Homo sapiens: one gene and its partner. The protein of the gene in region 2 interacts with the protein of the main gene of each other region in a pairwise test. Each region holds a gene or a part of one and is shown on either strand. Other genes may lie near its edges.

Region 1 (8,874 bases), on a different chromosome or scaffold from region 2:
TTGCACAGAGAAAGCAGCAACAGTGCCGAACAGAAACCTCAGGAAGATCAGCAAACACTTAGAAGACATAGGATCAAGGGAGACTCATGTTAGGATGTGAGGGGCTCACATATATTTACAGGCTGAGAGAGAGGAGCCTATAAAAAGGAGTAATCACAGAAAACAGGAAAGGCAATAAACGATGAGGCAGTCTGACAGGAGACAGGAAGGAAAGGGAACAAGGGCAGAGGTGGAAGGGTAAGCCCAGCAGCAAGGACGCCTCATCCAGTGACACAGGAGACTAAGAGGTAAATGTCACTGTGCAGTGGTGGAGGGGCTCTGAGGAGCTCACACTGGATGTCTCCATTTTCCTGATGAAGGAGGTACTGACCCTGTCTGCAGTCAACAGAGGGGAACTGGGAACGGCCATCGAGGTGTGGAGTGGCTGTCCAGTCAACCTCTCTTGCTTTGCTGTTGCTATCAAAGGACACAGCACTTTAAATTCCAAAAAGTGATATGTTATTTATTTATTTATACCTTGCCCTGTTCCAGAAAGAATTTCAGGCAGCAAAGTCATATGTAAGTTTTGCTGGACTGCCTATCAAGGGCAGGAACTGAAATTTTCCTATGCTTTCCAGGCAATGAGAAGTGAGTCGGGGAACGGAACCCACGATGCGTCAGAGGAGTGTTCCAGTTGCACACACACTCCCCAGCCACCTGGCAGCTCAGTCTATAATCTGGAGGCTTCCACATCTACAGCTCCATACAAATGAACCTCTGGTTCTAAAGAAGTTTCTTCCTTGTCTGGTTCTCACTTTCTAAACCTCAGTCTCTGGAGAGAAAAGGAGTCCTGGAGGATGAACAAGGCGAGCTTGGAGTAATTTGGAAAAGCTAATGTTGTAGGACAGAAGCAAAGCCTGCAAGTCACAGCCTAGGTTCCCTGAGTGATGTTTTCAGCAGTAAACTGCAACTTCAAAGCTAAGAGCCATCCTAATAATTTGCCATAAAAGGTAGCTTGTTAAAAATGAGTCAAAAAGGCCGGGTGCAGTGACTCACGCCTGTAATCCCAGCGCTTTGGGAAGCTGAGGCGGGCGGATCACAAGGTCAGGAGGTCGAGACCATCCTGGTTAACACGGTGAAACCCCGTGTCTACTAAAAATACAAAAAATTAGCTGGGCGTGGTGGCGGGCAGCTGTAGTCCCAGCTACTTGGGAGGCTGAGGCAGGAGAATGGCGTGAACCCGGGAGGCAGAGCTTGCAGTGAGCCGAGATTGCGCCACTGCACTCCAGTCTGGGTGACAGAGCAAGACTACATCTCAAAAAAAAAAAAAAAGGGGGCTGGGCACAGTGGCTCACGCCTGTAATCCCAGCCCTTTGGGAGGCCGAGGCAGGTGGATCACCAGGTCAGGAGATTAAGAACATCCTGGCTAACACAGTGAAACCCCGTCTCTACTAAAAATACAAAAAATTAGCCGGGTATGGTGGTGGGCGCCTGTAGTCCCAGCTACTCAGAAGGCTGAGGGAGGAGAATAGAACAGCGTGAAGCCGGTAGGCGGAGCTTGCGGTGAGCCGAGATCACGCCACTTCACTCCAGCCTGGGCGACAGAGCAAGACTCTGTCTCAAAAAAAAAAAAAAGAAAAAAAGAAAAAAAAAAGAGTCTTCTTTTTTTGTTTTTGAGACAGAGTCTCGCTCTGTCACCCAGGCTGGAGTGAAGTGGTGTGATCTCGGCTCACTGCAATCTCCGCCTCCTGGGTTCAAGCAATTGTCCTGCCTCAGCCTCCTGAGTAACTGGCATTATAGGTGAGAGCCACCACACCCAGCTAGTATTTGTATTTTTAGTAGAGACAGGGTTTCACTATGTTGGTTAGGCTGCTCTTGAACTCCTGACCTCGTGATCCGCCCACCTCGGCCTCCCAAAGTCCTGGGATTACAGGCGTGAGCCCAGCCATGATTATATCAGGGAAACAAGATGTATGTCACTTATATGTACCCGATCCAACTGTAAACATTTGTTTGAATATACTTTTATAGGAACCTTACAGATACATAGATTTGGAGTCTGAAAGATAATACAATGAAATGAAAGGTCATGTTCTCAACCCCTCTGACCAACCTGCAATGGTAGAGATTTGGCTCACTGGGATGGTAGCAGCCTTCTGGAGGTCCATCTTTATCTTTTTGGCCTGCCAGAAGAGAACAGTGAGAAAGCAGTGTTCTGAAGAGCTGAGTAGATGTCACTTAGAATCAGGTAAAGTGACATGCCAGCTACATTCCTTTGGGACACGAAGTGATCATTCTCTGAGAACCATCAAGTCCACAAAATTACTGCCATATACCTCTCCCCTACCTGACTGTCCTTGCTGTTGGTCAGGCCCTCAAAGGTCAACACACACTGCATGGAAGCATCCTGCAGCTGCTGGTACCACTGCATTGTAATGTCTTGTACCTTCACCTGGAGGTCTGAGAAATAAAAGAGAGGTTTTAGTAATAGCTAGTATTTACTGAACATGTAATATGAGGCAGGCACTGTTATAATCACTTTATGTATGTACTGACTGCTTTAACTGTCACCATAACTATGAAATAGATACTATTATTATCTCCATTTTATAGAAAAGGAAACAGGCACAAAAAGGTTAAGTGATTTGCCATGGTCACATTACTACTAAGTAGAAAAACTAAGGCTGGGTGTGGTGACCCACGCCTATAATTACAGTACTCTAGGAGGCCAAGACAGGCCCAGGAGCTTGAGACCAGCTTGCACAACATGGTGAAATCCCATCTCTACAAAAAATACACAAATTAGCCAGGCAGGGTGGCGCATGCCTGTAGTCCCAGTTACTTGGGAGGCTGAGTGGGGAGGATCACTTGAGCCTGGGAGGGTGAGGCTATAGTGAGCCATAATCATACCACTGTACTCCTCCAGCCTGGGTAACAAGAGTGAGACTCCTATCTCAAAAAAAAAACAAAAAACAAAAAACGCTGGGCGCAGTGGCTCATGCCTATAATCCCAGCACTTTGGGAGGCCAATGCTGGCAGATCACCTGAGGTCGGGAGTTCGAAACCAGCCTGACCAACATGGAGAAACCCCGTCTCCACTAAAAATACAAAAAAATTAGCCAGGTGTGGTGGTGCATGCCTGTAATCTCAGCTACTCAGGAGGCTGAGGCAGGAGAATCGCTTGAACCTGGGAGGCGGAGGTTGTAGTGAGCTGAGATTGTGCCATTGCACTCCAGCCTGGGCAACAAGAGCAAAACTCTGTCTCAAAAAAAACAAAAACAAAAACAAAACACACCAAAAAAGAAAAATTAGACTCCCAGGCTGGGTGCGGTGGCTCACACCTGTAATCCTAGCATTTTGGGAGGCCGAGGCGGGTGGATCATGAGGTCAGGAGTTTGAGACCAGCCTGGCCAACGTGGTGAAATCCCATCTTTACTAAAAATACAAAAATTAGCCAGGCACAGTGGCAGGCACCTGTAATCCCAGCTACTCGGGAGGCTGAGGCAGGAGAATTGTTTGAACCCGGGAGGCAGAGGTTGCAGAGAGCCAAGATCGCGCCACTGCAATCCAGCCTGGGCAACAAGAGCAAATCTCCATCCCCTCCCCGCAAAAAACAACAACAACAACAACAACAACAAAAACCAGACTCCCACTGATCTGGCTCCAGAGTCAGCACTCTCAAACACTATGGTACACTGATTCTTTTTCTTTTTTTGAGACGGAGTCTCACTCTGTCACCAGGTTGGAGTGCAGTGGCACCACCTCAGCTCACTGCAACCTCCAGCTCCTGGGTCAAGCAATTCTCCTGCCTTAGCCTCCCGAGTAGCTGGGACTACAGGTGCGTGCCACCATGCCCAGCTAATTTTTTTATTTTTGGTAGAGATGGGAGTTTCGGCATGTTGGCCAGGCTGGTCTCGAACTCCTGACCCCTTATACGTATTACACCAACACATATCTGTGCGCATTTATTTAAAATACTCAGCAGCAGCAATAATTGAAATAATGTATCTGCTAGAGTTATACAGAATTTCAAGTCCTCACGCAAAGTGTTGGAATCGTAAATCAGACTCTACATCAACCAAAACTGAATGAAATACATTACATAAAATTCTGGTTAACTGTCCTACAGTTTAACACAACATTCAAAACATGCTCTTGTTTCTCTTCACATTTGAAACTTACGAGTTAAAGGACCACATCCATACTGAAACCCACCTTCATTCTGTTTCCCTCCTGGGCCCTGGCTGGGAGCTGGGGGCTCTTTGTGGGCCTCTGGTCCCTGCTGCATCTGTGCCTCTTGCAGCTTTACCTGGGCCTCTTCTTCATCCTGCCTCCTCTTGTCTTCGCAGGCTCTGGTGATCTCCTGCCCCAAGTTCATCAGGAGGTCCCGCATTTCCCGCAGAGCTCGCTCAGCCTCAGCTTGACTCTCTGCTGTGGGATAGCTGCTCTGTCAGAGTGACGGAGATGGTGCTTAGTGGTCATTCCCTAGGTAAATCATACCTCATACAAGTCAATAAATTTCCTGCAATTGGAATTGTTGCACCAATGGAGTATCCACATTCAACGAATTGATACTTCTTTCCCTGTTCTCTTAAAGGTATTAATAATTCCAACTTACTGTCACATCCATAGTTTCTAAGTATAAATTGGTCTGTATTCTCAGCAACAAGGGCCAGCGTAATTTTTTAAAAAGTTTGTGACAATATGTTAGACAAAAATAATACTGTTTTATTATAATAATAATTATTTTTTGAGACAGAATCTCCATTGCCCAGGTTGGAGTGCAGTGGCAAGATCTCGGTCATTGCAACCTTTGCCTCCCAGGTTCAAGTGCTGCTCGTGCCTCAGCTTCCCAAGTAGCTGGGATTACAGGTGTGCGTCACCACACCCAGCTAATTTTTGTATTTTTAGTAGAGACTGGGTTTCACCATGTTGGCTGAAACCTACTGGTCTCGAACTCCTAGCCTCAAGTAATCCGAGAATCGCTTGAACCTGGAAGCCGGAGGTTGAAGTGAGCCATGATCACACCACTGCACTCCAGCCGGGGCAAGAGTGTGAGACCCTGTCTCAAAAAAAAAAAAAAAAAAAAAAAAAAAAAGCAAAGCAAAGAAACAGGGCAGGTACAATGGCTCGTGCCTGTAACCCCAATACTTCGGGAGGCTAAGGTGGGAGGATCACTTCAGCCCAGGAGTTCAAGACCAGCCTGGGAAACATAGTGAGATCTCTATTGCTAATTTAAAAACAAAACGAAACAAAAAAAGTTTGGCACCGTGGCTCACACCTGTAATCTCAGCAGTTTGGGAGGCCGAAGTAGGGGGATCACTTCAGCCCAGGAGTTAGAGACCAGCCTGAGCAACATGGCAAAACCCTGTCTCTACAAAAAAATACAAAAATTAGCAGGGCATGGTGGTATGCGCCTGTAGTCCCAGCTACTCAGGAGACTGAGGTGGGAGGATCACTTGAGCCCGGGAGGCAGAGGTTGCATGAGCTGAGACTGTGTTACTGCACTCCAGCCTGGGTGACAAAGGGGAACCCCATCACAAAAAAAAAAAAAAAAAAAAAAAAAGACTCCAGAATAAGCAGGTATAAAAATAAAGAAATAAATAAAAGAAACAAAATAAAATGTTAACAGTGGTTACTTCTAGGTAAAGAGATATGGAGATAACAAGTAATGTTTGGTATTTCCCCCAATAAGCAGATAGCAGGTATTACTTTTTAAGTCAGAAAACAGTTTTGCTTTTAAAGGCTTCCATTTCAAAGACAGCAAAGAGTCACTCTGAAGCCCCCCTCACCTCTGAAGAGGCCCGGATGATCCCTGAGATGAGGCTGCACAGCTGGTTGCCTCGGGTCTGGAAGGCAGCCAGGTCGACCTTAAGCAGGGCTTTGTGCTGCTCAGAGGCATCCAGCTGCTGGCTGAGCTGCAGCATCTCCTCCTGCAGAGCATAGAGGGCCCGCAGGCGGATCTGGCCTTCTTCCTTCCGAAGCCGCTCCTGTTCTGCTTGCTTCACGCGCTGCTGCTCTGCTTCCCGCAGCTTCAGGTTGAGAATCTGTAGAAAAGGGCTGAGTGACTTCTCTCTGAGGGGTTCCTGGGCTTCTTCTTTCTACAGTCCTCAAATTCTACGTGGGCTACATATTTTCACAGATGGGCTCAGAGCAGGAAGAGGACATCCCAAGGTTAGTCATACACAGGCATAATACGGCCCAGATCCTCCATGGTGGCCATCTGCCAAAACCTGGCTCTCCAGGCAGGTTACAGACAGACACCAAAACACCCACACCAATTCTGCCAGGCTCTGACCTTTGCTCTGTGACGGTGCTCAGCTTTTAGCTTCTCTTGGTGTCCCAAGGCTTCTCTGGAGCTGCATGAAAAATGGCAGGGAGGAATAGTCAGGGATACTTCCTGAAATTGTTTTTCTTTCTTTCTTTTCTCTCCCTCTCCCTGCCCTCCCTTCCCTTCCTTCCCTTTTTCTTAGAGATGGGGTCTCGTTATGTTGCCCAGGCTGCAGAGCATAGCTCACCACAGCCTCAAACTCCTGGACTCAAGCAATCCTCCTGCCTCAGCCTCTCTAGTAATTGAGACTACAGCTGTGTTCCACCACGCCCGTAAAATTGTTTTACCTCTCCTAAAAGCCTCCCTCTTTGTGTTCCTTTGGTTGTCTCTCCAAGTTTGGTCTTTTTTCCAGGTTATAAAATTCTCTGCCTATTTTACCTTGATATTTAAGGACTCAGAAGTTGTTCAACTCTTTCCCTTTGGAATTCCTCTTGGGAAAGAGTTCCAGTTGAACACATCAACATTCCCAGTCATAATTCAGGGAGACTCACCTCTTCTCCATTACTTCCCGCAAGTCCTGGAATTCTTTATGCTGCTTCAGTTCCTTCCATTCATCAAACCGCTTCAGTTGTTCAGATGCCATCTCCGAGAGGGCTTGCACCTTCCTCTCCTGCTCCTCCTGCCATAGCCTCAGGCCCTCCTGAAAAGGTTTTTTTTTTTTTTTTTTTTTTTAAGATGGAATCTCTCTCTGTCGCCAGGCTGGAGTGCAGCTCACTGCAACCTCCAACTCCCGGGTTCAAGCGATTCTTGTCTCAGCTCCCCAAGTAGCTGGGACTACAGGTGCCTGCCACCATGCCCAGCTAATTTTTGTATTTTTAGTAGAGACGGTTTCACCATGTTGGCCAGGATGGTCTTGATCTCTTGACCTTGTGATCCGCCTGCCTTGGCCTCCCTAAGTGCTCGGATTACAGGCGTGAGCCACCTCGCCCGGCCGAAAATGTTTAACACCTGCTCTCTGGAGCGCCTTCAACACCTTGATCATTTACCCCTGCGGGCTACCTGCCCATCGGCCCCTAACACCATCAGAGATACTTAAGGGCATGGAATCAGAACCTTTGCAGGAATATCCTTTCTCCTTTTGCTTGATCTTTAAGCTCAGCTGTTTTGGAAAGCTCTTCCAATTGCCCCATATGGTTTATGTCACTCCAGTACAAGTTGGGAACGGACAGGAATTTAGCAACATGACATCAAACAGCCATGCACTATTAAGCTTCCATCCTGTGTAGTCTTATGGGGTTCATTGGTAATTTACGGAAATCCTCATTCTAATTCCATAAACAAGCTATACACATTCCTATCTCACTGATTTTGTTAATCTCTGCCTCGAAGATTTTCTCCTGGACCTCCACTAAGGAAAGTCCTTTTCCTTAGTACCTAAGGGTATCAGATATTGAATTTATCATTTCATGAGAGTACTCACATATGGTTAAAGGCAATTTGACATTTTAACTATCAAAATTTGAAGTGTCTATATCCTTTGACACTTGTTCCATTTCAGGAATTTATCCTGAGGAAATGCTTGTATGTGTGTGCAAAGATATATGTACAAGAATGCTCACTGGAGCCCTGTTGATAACAGCAATACATTTAAAACCACTTAACTGGGGAATGACGACACGTATTATAGTACAGTCATACTGCAGAATACTATGCAGCCCTTAAAGATGACGAGATGCCAGCTAGCATGGAGATATGTCAAAATCTACTGTTAAGACATTATGTTATTTTATTTTAAAACATAATTATATTTTATTTTGTTTATTTGTTTATTTTTGAGACAGGGTCTCACCCTGTCATGTAGGCTAGAGTGCAGTGGCACACTTATAGCTCACGGCAGCCTTGAACTCCTGAGCTCAAGGGATCATCCCAACTCAGCCACCTGAGTAGCTGGGACTAAAGGTGTCCACTATCACACGGGGCTAATTTTTAAATTTTTTATAGAGTCAGGGTCTCACTATATTGCCCAGGATGGTCTAGAGCTCCCGATCTCAAGCTATCCTCCCACTTTGGCCTCCCAAACTGCTGGGATTATAGGCATAAGCCAACTGTACCCAGTCTTAAAACTTATTTTAAAGCTTCCAGCGAAAGAAGGCAAACTAAACAAGCATATATGTCCTCTCCTCTGGGACTCTGTTAAAGTGAGAATTGGAAAGAAAAAAAAGACATAACACCACATAGAGCATGAGAGATGTCACCAGCAGGGAAAAATCTTCTACATACTTCTGGAAAACAGTCAGTGGAGAAATAGCCAGGTGCACTGGCTGAGATCTGTAATCCCAGCACTTGAGGAGGCCAAAGTGGGAGGATCACTTGAGCCCAGGAGTTCGAGACCAGCCTGGGCAACAGAGAGACCCCCGTCTCTACCAAAAATTTAAAAATTATCTGGCTGTGGTGGTGCACACCTGCAGTCCCAGTTATTTAGAAAGCAGAAAGAGCTGAGGTAGGAGGAATGCCTGAACCCAGGAGGTCAAGGCTGCAAGGAGCGGTGATTGCACCACTGTATTCCAGCCTGAGCAACGGAGCGAGACCCTGTCTTTAAAAAAAAAAAAATAGTGGAGAAGCAA
Region 2 (9,490 bases):
TTGACCTGAAAAACGGACATTTCTCTCTATGGAGAATTCTAAGCAGTGCAGGCTTCCTAGGGCTGATCTCTAGGCCAATCTTGCTTAACATTTCTATAAAATTGTCTGACAAGGGGATGATATAGCAGTGTCTACAGGTCTGCTGACTCCAAGCTGTCTCAGTAAGGGAAACGGCAAACTGAGATGAACTTCAGAAGTTCTCAAAGGGCCAGGCAAGAGGGCAGAAAACTACAGATTAGATCTAGCCCTAGTGTGGTTAAAATAATTCAAACTATTATTTAAAGATGATGGGTCCTAAGCTATCAGCTACAGGTCAGAAATTAGGAATGAAATGGCTCTGATGGTCTACAGATTATCAAGCTGATCTAACAGCTTTCTGCAGCTCCCAAGTCTAAGAAACTCTTCATAGCATCATAAAGGGTGCTAGAAGCTAAGCAAAACATCATCCTGCTCTACACGTGATCTAGACCGTCCACATCTGTACCACTCTGCACAGTTCTGATTATTACATATTGGTTATTAAGGATATATGAAAGCTGGAAGAAGTCCAAAGAGTAACAATTAGGCTGCACCATGAAGAGAAGTCCATGAAACCATCCCTCTCATCTACAGAAACGAAGCAGGGCCAGCCCGGTGGCTCACACCTGTAATCCCAGCACTCTGGGAGAACGATGCAGGAGAATCACTTAAAGCCAAGAGCTTGAGACCAGCCTGGGCAACATAGTGAGACTCCATCTCTACGAAAAAGAAAATGAAAATTAGCCAGGCATGGTAGCACACACCTGTAGTCCTAGCCACTTGGAAGGCTAAGGCTGGAGAATCACTTGAGCCCAGGAAATTGAGACTGCAGTGAGCTGCAGTCACATGACAGAACTCCAGCCTGGGCAACAGAGTGAGACTCTGTCCAGAAAAATAAAAAAGAAGAAGGAAGGAAGGAAAAAAAGGAAGAAAGAAAAGAAGAGAAAAAGGAAAAAAATCTAAAAATTAAATAAGTATCTTAGCAAGTATAGAATTCTATTCGGAAGCAAAATGTGAATGTGTATACAGATATAAATTAAGCCAGAATAGGCCGGGCATGGTGGCTCACGCCTGTAATCCCAGCACTTTGGGAGGCCGAGGCGGGCAGATCACGAGGTCTGGAGATCGAGTCCATCCTAACTAACACGGTGAAACCCCGTCTCTACTAAAAAAAAAAAAAAAAAAATACAAAAAAATTAGCCGGGCTTAGTGGCAGGCGCCTGTGGTCCCGGCTACTCGGGTGGCTGAGGCAGGAGAATGGCGTGAACCCAGGAGGCGGAGCTTGCAGTGAGCCGAGATCGTGCCACTGCCCTCCAGCCTGGGTGATAGAGCGAGACTCTGTCTAAAAAAAAAAAAAAAAAAAAAAATTAAGGCAGAATAATCATGTCCTAAATTTAAGTAGTACATTCTACCATGCCACAAAAATCTGTAATAAACAGAAAGTATGCCTATCTGTTTCATTTTACCTACGTGGGTGTGAAATGTATGGATTTAGCTTTTGCATAATGATAAAGGCCACCACCCCTCACAACATGTTGGTTTTAAAGTCACTGATAGACAATCTTATCCAAAACAACTCCAACCAAATCACCTACTAACTACAGTTACCACTTTAGTCCTGATGGTTTATGTAACACAAGTTAGCTCAGCTATAATTGCACTTCAATAAAAATATATCAAAGCTGGAAGAGGTTAGGAACTCAGGGTTTTAGTTGGTAGCATTACTACTAATAATAGTAACATAATAATAATAAGGCGAAGAACAACATTTCATGGAAATCTACAGGGAGAGATAACTTGGCAGTGTAAAGAGGGAGGCCTCTGTGTTCAACTATTACTGCCTCTGCTTAACTGTGTGACCCAGGCAAGGTACTGAACCTCTCTGTGCCTCTATCTCCTCGCTTCAGAAATGAGAAAAAGCCTAGCGCCTACCTCGCAAGCTGCAATCCCTGGCACACAATAGTCACTAAATCTTAACTGTTGCCAATAGTGTTATTGTTGTTGTTGTTGTCATTGTCACTTATTATTACTGCAATTTACAGAGAACTTTCACATACAATAGCTAATGACTATTAAGTAATAGCACAAAGAAATACTTAATTTAAAGGGTAATTACATCACATGTCAAGTATATGGGAAAGGGTATGATTTCCACCAGCATCCTTTGTGCTTGCCTTCTGGTTTGTCAGAAAGAGCCAGTCATATCTAAATTGTGATTGGATGGATGTAAAAGGAAGTAACAGACAGAGTAGTTAATAACAGCTAACATTTATGGAGTACTCACAATGTTCCAGATAGTTTATTCAGCATTTATATGCATTACCATTATTTAATCTTATTATAAATGTTACAGCTGAGGGATGGAGCCAAGCCAGGTTCCATAACCTTCCCAAGGTTACTGGGGAGTCAACCCAGGCAGGTTGACTTTGGAGGATGTGCCAGACCACTACCCTCCTGCCCAGGACTGACTTCCGTTAGAAAACAAACGTGCAAAACATTCTGATCATTTTGCTTATTATCAACAACAGAAACAACCAGTATTGTGCTCATCTCTCTAAATGAAGACACAGGCACATATTCACTTTACAGGAGTTACCCTTTCTCTGGACCAGCAATCCTCTTAGAACCGCTAATGAGGATCATCTAAATTCTCATCCCTGGTGAGCAACATTTTTCCTTGTACTTCTTGAATTCTAGCTTACATATTTAACATAAAATTATATGTTCAATCATTCAATAATTCTGGGATTCCCTTAAAGTGTAATATCAACCAATCCCAGTTACTAAAAAATGTCACAACAAAAATACCCCTTGCACTAATATCCTTGCACTAATATCAGGGTTCTTAGCAAGCAGGTCAGTAATCAACAAATCCTGAATTGTAAATAAATATTATATGCATATATATATATATATATATATATATATATATATGCATTTTCCTGTTCTGGAAGACAAGTCCATTCATTAGATTGTTCAGAAGGCCCCAAAATGTTAAAAAAATGACTATTCATTTAGATAGAGGGCCTCCCAAGACAAATTACATCATTATATTCATTTTAAAATCTTTGGGGGTTCTCAAATGGAATAAATACTGCAATTCAATGCCTTATGATTTCATGCCAGCGTGACAGCAAAACTCATAAGGGACAGGATTCTGGATTAAGAATGAGGAGACTTGCTCTAGCAGAAATTCTCTGTATAGGTGACCTTGGGGAAATCACTGAAAATTTCAGGACTTTGTTCCATGATCTGGAAAGTGACTGTGTTTTAAAAGGTGATTTCAGGGTTTCCCCCACAGCTCTATGACTCTATAACATAATAATACCACAGGTGCAATGCAAAATAAGACAAAAATTACTCCAGCCACTTACATCGCTAATGAGTTCCGTGCATTTTCTGGCCAATTCCATGCTTAAGTCTTCAATAACAGGCTTATAGAAGACCTATTTGAAAAAAAAGAAAAGAACAGAAAGAACATTTTTCTCATTGTCAATTTAGAGGAACAAACGCTGGTCTGAGTATGTGTTTTCTCACTCACCTGGTCTTCTTCATTTTCTTCTTCCCCTATCTTTTCTTCTTCAGTTTCATCTTTTATATCCTCAAATACAGGGACCCTCATTTTTACCCTTTAAAATATTTATATTTTTAAAATTTACTCATGTGGCGTCCTTTTCCATACCACAGTGCCCTTGAGATGCTGACGTCTCTGGTGCTCTGGCAGAAATGCCCTTGCCCAAGCCTCAGCCCTATTTAGCCCACACTTCACTCCTTATCTCAGTGGTGTGTGAGTGAACAGAAAAGGATCCCAGAGGTCTACCAGGCTGGCCTCACAAGTGGAAATAACATATTCTTAAGCAAAATTTGATTTTATGAACTTTTAAAGTCAACATTTTTTCCACTGGTTAAGAAATCCAAAAGAAAAAATTTATTTATCTTTTACTAATTCTATTCATTCATAAAAGAGCATAAAAAGGACTTAGAGATTCTGGGAAAACTACTCAGCTCTAACACTCAAGATAGCACAGTCCAAAGCCTGTTATCTCAAAGATTCCTTGTCTCTGTCTAAATAAAGCTTTCACTGGAATGTCAGACTTCCTTCTGACTTGGGGTAGTGAATCTGGATCATTCAAACTCATTTTGTCAACCTAAATTATATGTTTTATCAGACATACCAGTACTTCTCACATCCTAAAAAATACCCACTTTATATTAGCTGATTAGAGGCTACTTATTTATTATGAAAAGCCCTTTGAACCACTTCAAAGAATCTATTCTGAGTTAATTATGACTGTTAGTATTATACTGGCGAGTATGGTATTGTATTAATTGTAAACATCATTAAACATGAGAAGTTGCAGTTAACATATGTTGATACATAATTTAACAATTCTGGAAACATCGTTTCAAAAATCATCATCATCATCTTTGAATTCTGCAGTTCTACTCATCATGTCAATTTTTACAAAGTCATTGGTGATTTGCATTATTACTCAATGGGCACCCCACATTCAGAAAAGTTTGGAAAAATAAACCATCACAATATTTATAATGTAGTGTATGTCCTTGGTTACGTAAAACCAAGGTTAAAAAAAAATTTCTCAAAACAAATATTTTAATGTCAATTCAGGCAATTCCAAGACTCCCTACAACTCACAATTTATTAATCTGGTTATGTAAATCCTAGGGTAAATTAATTTTACCAAGTCATAGCACATTAGCATTGGGCATAAAAAATACCCTACACTGAATAGTAATACTGATGATACAAAATACAAATTTATTAAAAATAGTATGTCATTCTAAGTAGCCAAGCATAATTTTTTCTCTTGATATCATATCTAGTTTTCAATGTACTGTAAAAAAAAAATGCCTTGGCCTTACCTAAACTGAAAATCCTGACAAGAAAAACATTCTACACAGTCATCACGTATAAATTATTTCTGAAATTGTGTTCCATGAGGCAAAAGTTCCACAAAAGATTCTGGGGGAAAAAAGCAGGTTTCTTAAACAAATATGTTTGGGAAATCTGTACCCCAGTCTCTGTCCCTGCCACTTAGAGATCTACAAGGCATATTGACATACTAGAAGTTCTGAGAAGACCTTCAACCAAAAAACCTGCTTAGGCTTGCTTAACCTCGTGTTCCCCTGAACACAAACCTGTTTATCTCATCAAATCTAATCCAATTTAATCTAATCTACCTACCTACCTATCTACCTATCTTTTTTTTAATCATACCCACTACCCCAGAAAACTAACACTCCTCTGTGAAATATGACCGACTGCTTAGGGAAACATTGCTCTATTCTCCTAAAATGTTGTGTTCTAGAAGGAGCTGTTGGTCTTGAACTAGTTTTTGATACAGGCTAAATTAATGGTATCACATATCCTGTTCACCAACAAAATACCAAAAAGAAATTGCCTCAAGCATGCTGAACTTGGAAACCACAACTCTAAGATTACAGCCATATCATGCTGGCCCAGTGTAGTGGATTCCACAAGGACATTCCTTGTATATTTTATTTGTTCCGTAAAAGGAAAGAATGTGTGCATTCCAATTATTTCCCTCAAGTCCTCTGCTGGCCAGAAGACTATTCTAATATTCTATAGATCTATTACATTATCTTTATTTGGAAATAGGGAGGAGTAATTTCTGTAAACTTGTCTTGCAAATTTCTAGGAGTGTAGGGAGAAAATCTTGCCAAAACTGCCTGAGACACACCTTTTGGCTCATATTTGAGGAGACAGTACTGGTGTTACTCAGGGTGACACCTATTCCCCAAGGTGAATTACCTTCATCAGGCTTGCAGTGCAGTTATTTCTCATTTCCCATCACGTAATATGTTCTTAGGGACTCTTCACTGTGCTGCAAGAAAATAAGCTGTTGAGATTTAATGCACAAACTTTTGAAAACAAAAACCAAACACCACGTGCAATGTGAACACAAATTTTCCATTTGAGATTCTAGAATCAGAATTTCAAGCCAAAGGGATCCTTAAGAAATCAATACACCTAAAGCCCTCTCTTTCACAGATGACAAAATGAAGGCTATGAAAAATTATGTGTCTCATTTACAAAGCCATTCAATGAAGCACTAGGATCAGAACCTAACTAGAGACCTGTGTTCATTTGTTCAACAAATAAATGTTGTTATGCCAGGCACTGTGCTTGGTGTTAGAGATAGAATGGTGAATAAAATATTCTTCATACTAAGATAGAATTGGAAATAAAATACTCATCACTCAACACTTGCTGGATGAAGTCTTTAATGGATCGTTTGGCAAGCTAGAGACACCATTACTTTTGATTGAATACATCTTTTTTCCTCTCACCTATAATATAAAATTCATGCAAAGTTTTCTCTAAAAAAGTGTTAAGCCCTGCACTTCATCACAGCAAAGTTTTCTTGTCAGTAGCTCTAAAATATGACATGGAGAATATGAAGAAAGTGTTCCTCATGGACAGCTATCATGTTTCAAAATCCCCTATCGACTTTTCCAAAAACCAAGCTTAATGTATTTTAATAGATATTTTCACCTTGGGTTGCTCCAAAAGGCAAAATCTCTGTAGCTGCTCATAGCTTTTACTTATTGGGCACTTCTTTTATGTTGTTTACTTTTCTACTTTAGTACTCTACGCATGCCTTGATACAGAATGAGACCAAGAGACATCACTTATGGCTAAACTCTCAAAGTCCAGGTCTGGCTCTGCCATGTCCTCTAGGGCAAATTATTCAACCCCTCACTACCTCTAATTCTTCATAGTTAAACAGAAAAACTGAGTTGACAGAAGTTAATAAAAAGAAAGCACTGGCTGGGTGCGCAGTGGCACACGCCTGTAATCCCAGCACTTTGGGAGGCTGAGGCAGGCAGATCACAAGGTCAGGAGTTCGAGACCAGCCTGACCAACATGGTCAAACCCCGTCTCTAGTAAAAATAGAAAAATTAGCCGGGCATGGGCTGGGTGCGGTGGTTCACGCCTGTAATCCTAGCACTTCGGGAGGCCAAGGCAGGTGGATTGCTTGAGCTCAGGAGTTCGAGACCAGCCTAGGCAACATGGTGAAACCCCATCTCTACTAAAATACAAAAAAAAAAAAAAAATTAGCCGAGTGTGATGGCAGTAGATGGGATTACGCCTGTAATCCCAGCTACTAGGGAGGCTGAGACAGAAGAATCGCTTGAACTTGGGAGGCGTAGGTTGCAGTGAGCCAAGATCCTGCCACTGCACTCCAGCCTAGGTGACAGAGTGAGACTCCATCCCGAAAAAAAAAGAAAAAAGAAAAAAATTAGCCGGGCATGGTGGCACACACCTGTAATCTCAGCTACTCAGGAGGCCGAGGCAGGAGAATCACTTGACCCGGGAGGCGGAGGTTGCAGTGAGCCAAGATCGCGCCACTGCACTCCAGCCTGGGTGACAGAGCGAGACTCCCTCTTAAAAAAAATAAAAAGAAAAAGCACCTTAAAAATAGTGGAGCCCCTCACAAACACAAGCTTTTTTTCAACCACCAATAAAGGTACACAGTGATGTGAAAAACATTTGGCATGAAAAGGTCTTCTCATTCTCTGTGCCATTAATATCCTTTTAAAGTCAAGAAGGGCCTTCTGCAACTAGACAGCTTAAAGATAAGAGCTCACTTGCTTATTTATAATTCAGAAGTCTTCTGATCTTTTGATAGCTTGATGTTTACACGTAAGCAAATGTATTTCCTTAGCAACTGTCAGGTGGGTAATTCAAGTCTCAGAGACACAGCCGTGGCCAAGGGAACGTATCTGTGCCACCATCTGGAGTCGTGCAGTGCACAACTGTCTTCACCTTCCTTGAGGTCGCCTATGACAAGACTTTCTTGGTTTTTGACTGTTTCACACTTATTTCACTTTTTTCTCCTTTTTTTCATAATGATAGAACATGTACTTTTCCTCAACATGGTGATACATGATTTAAAAATAAAAATTTATAATAAACAATTAAAACAGATCCAAATTCAGTTCTGAGTGGGGGGAAAAAAGTACAGAGATAAACTGCTTTTCTTTTAACTTTAAAAATGAATTCAACATTTCTTATTATAAAATATTCATTCCAAATGGTTAGGTGAAAGAAGAATTTGTTTGCCTGATTTGTTTCCCTGCCATGATGGTTTTTTCACACTCATTTTTTGTTGCCTGGTTTTTGTTTTGATGACCGTCTTCCGGAAGGTTCCTGCTTCTCAGTTGAATCCCTAGTCATTCCATCTTTGCCTCACCTATTTACTCAGTAACTGGTATCTTCCCAGAACAGAACTTTACTGATGGACGAGGCAAGATAAATCATTTCTTGAAAGAAGAAATGTAAGCACTCTAGGACAATTTGTCTCCTTTATAAAAGAGAAGAGTTTTGCTTAATATTGGTCCAATCAACTTTTACAATTTAGAATTCATGAACATATTTTCTCCTTTTTAATAGCTATTTCATTACTCTTTAATAATCAGAAATCGAAAGAACACAAAGCAACCTAAACATGTGTCACCATGACCAAGTATGCTATTAAGATTTAATAAGGTGGCCGGGCGCGGTGGCTCACGCTTGTAATCCCAGCACTTTGGGAGACCGAGACAGGCGGATCATGAGGTCAGGAGATCGAGATCATCCTGGCTAACACTGTGAAACCCCGTCTCTACTAAACAAAATACAAAAAATTAGCTGGGCATGGTGGCGGGTGCCTGTAGTCCCAGCTACTCGGGAGGCTGAGGCAGGAGAATGGCGTGAACCTGGGAGGCAGAGCTTGCAGTGAGCCAAGATCGCACCACTGCACTCCAGCCTGGGCAACAGAGCAAAGACACTGTCTCAAAAAAAAAAAAATTTAATAAGGTATATTCCATATGTATATTCCCCTTTTCACAGATGTAGATCCCACTCACAAATGAGAGCTACATAGTTAGATGGATGTTGGAGGAAGTGAAAAACAAGAAACTGGAAATAGTATGGGGCACAACAATTTCCAGGTTGGGTGTGGTGGGGAAGCCCAAATTAAAACGATGTACTCTGCTTATAGAGGGGGCAGGAAAGTATTCTCAATGTCTACATTAACATAGCGCCCATTGAGCTGAAAGTCTTCGGTTTCATTTACAGCTTGAGACATTAGTTCAGTTTTCATAGCAATTAAGCTAATACCATGATCACTCCCGCAATCTTCACCACCAAGAGGAAGAAACCTAAGCTCTTCTTGGTCTGTATGTGGCTTATACCCAGAACCAAAGGGTCAGGCAGGATCAAACAGCTTGACTCCCACAGAGTGTCCCTTTCCTAGAGTTTTATGTGAGATGTGTCAGGAATAATTGTGAAAGACTTTGAAATGGGCACATAGAAAACAAATTACTGAGTGTTCCCTTCAGGACTATACTGTTCTTTCATTATCTTTGAACTACTTCACGATTCCATAAACTGTTGAAAACTGATAAGAATGAGAATGATTCTTATCCATAGAAATGCAAATTA

What was found. Proteins that work in one complex are often made in the same cells at the same time.
Region 1: the proteins of NEBL (region 2) and GLE1 interact in binary tests that used the Homo sapiens proteins (3 or more experiments, as listed by UniProt).

Annotation. Positions count from the first base shown.
Region 1 is NC_000009.12:128,520,744-128,529,617, reverse strand, and holds part of GLE1 (mRNA export factor GLE1), read right to left. Parts: intron 6,951-8,874; coding exon 6,802-6,950; intron 6,339-6,801; coding exon 6,278-6,338; intron 6,029-6,277; exon of another isoform or gene 6,027-6,028; coding exon 5,772-6,026; intron 4,427-5,771; coding exon 4,195-4,426; intron 2,440-4,194; coding exon 2,327-2,439; intron 2,163-2,326; coding exon 2,093-2,162; intron 1,008-2,092; exon of another isoform or gene 618-1,007; intron 1-617. UniProt on the Homo sapiens protein: Required for the export of mRNAs containing poly(A) tails from the nucleus into the cytoplasm. May be involved in the terminal step of the mRNA transport through the nuclear pore complex (NPC).
Region 2 is NC_000010.11:20,893,566-20,903,055, forward strand, and holds the start of NEBL (nebulette), read right to left. Parts: upstream 3,747-9,490; 5' UTR 3,641-3,746; coding exon 3,560-3,640; intron 3,465-3,559; coding exon 3,393-3,464; intron 1-3,392. UniProt on the Homo sapiens protein: Binds to actin and plays an important role in the assembly of the Z-disk. May functionally link sarcomeric actin to the desmin intermediate filaments in the heart muscle sarcomeres.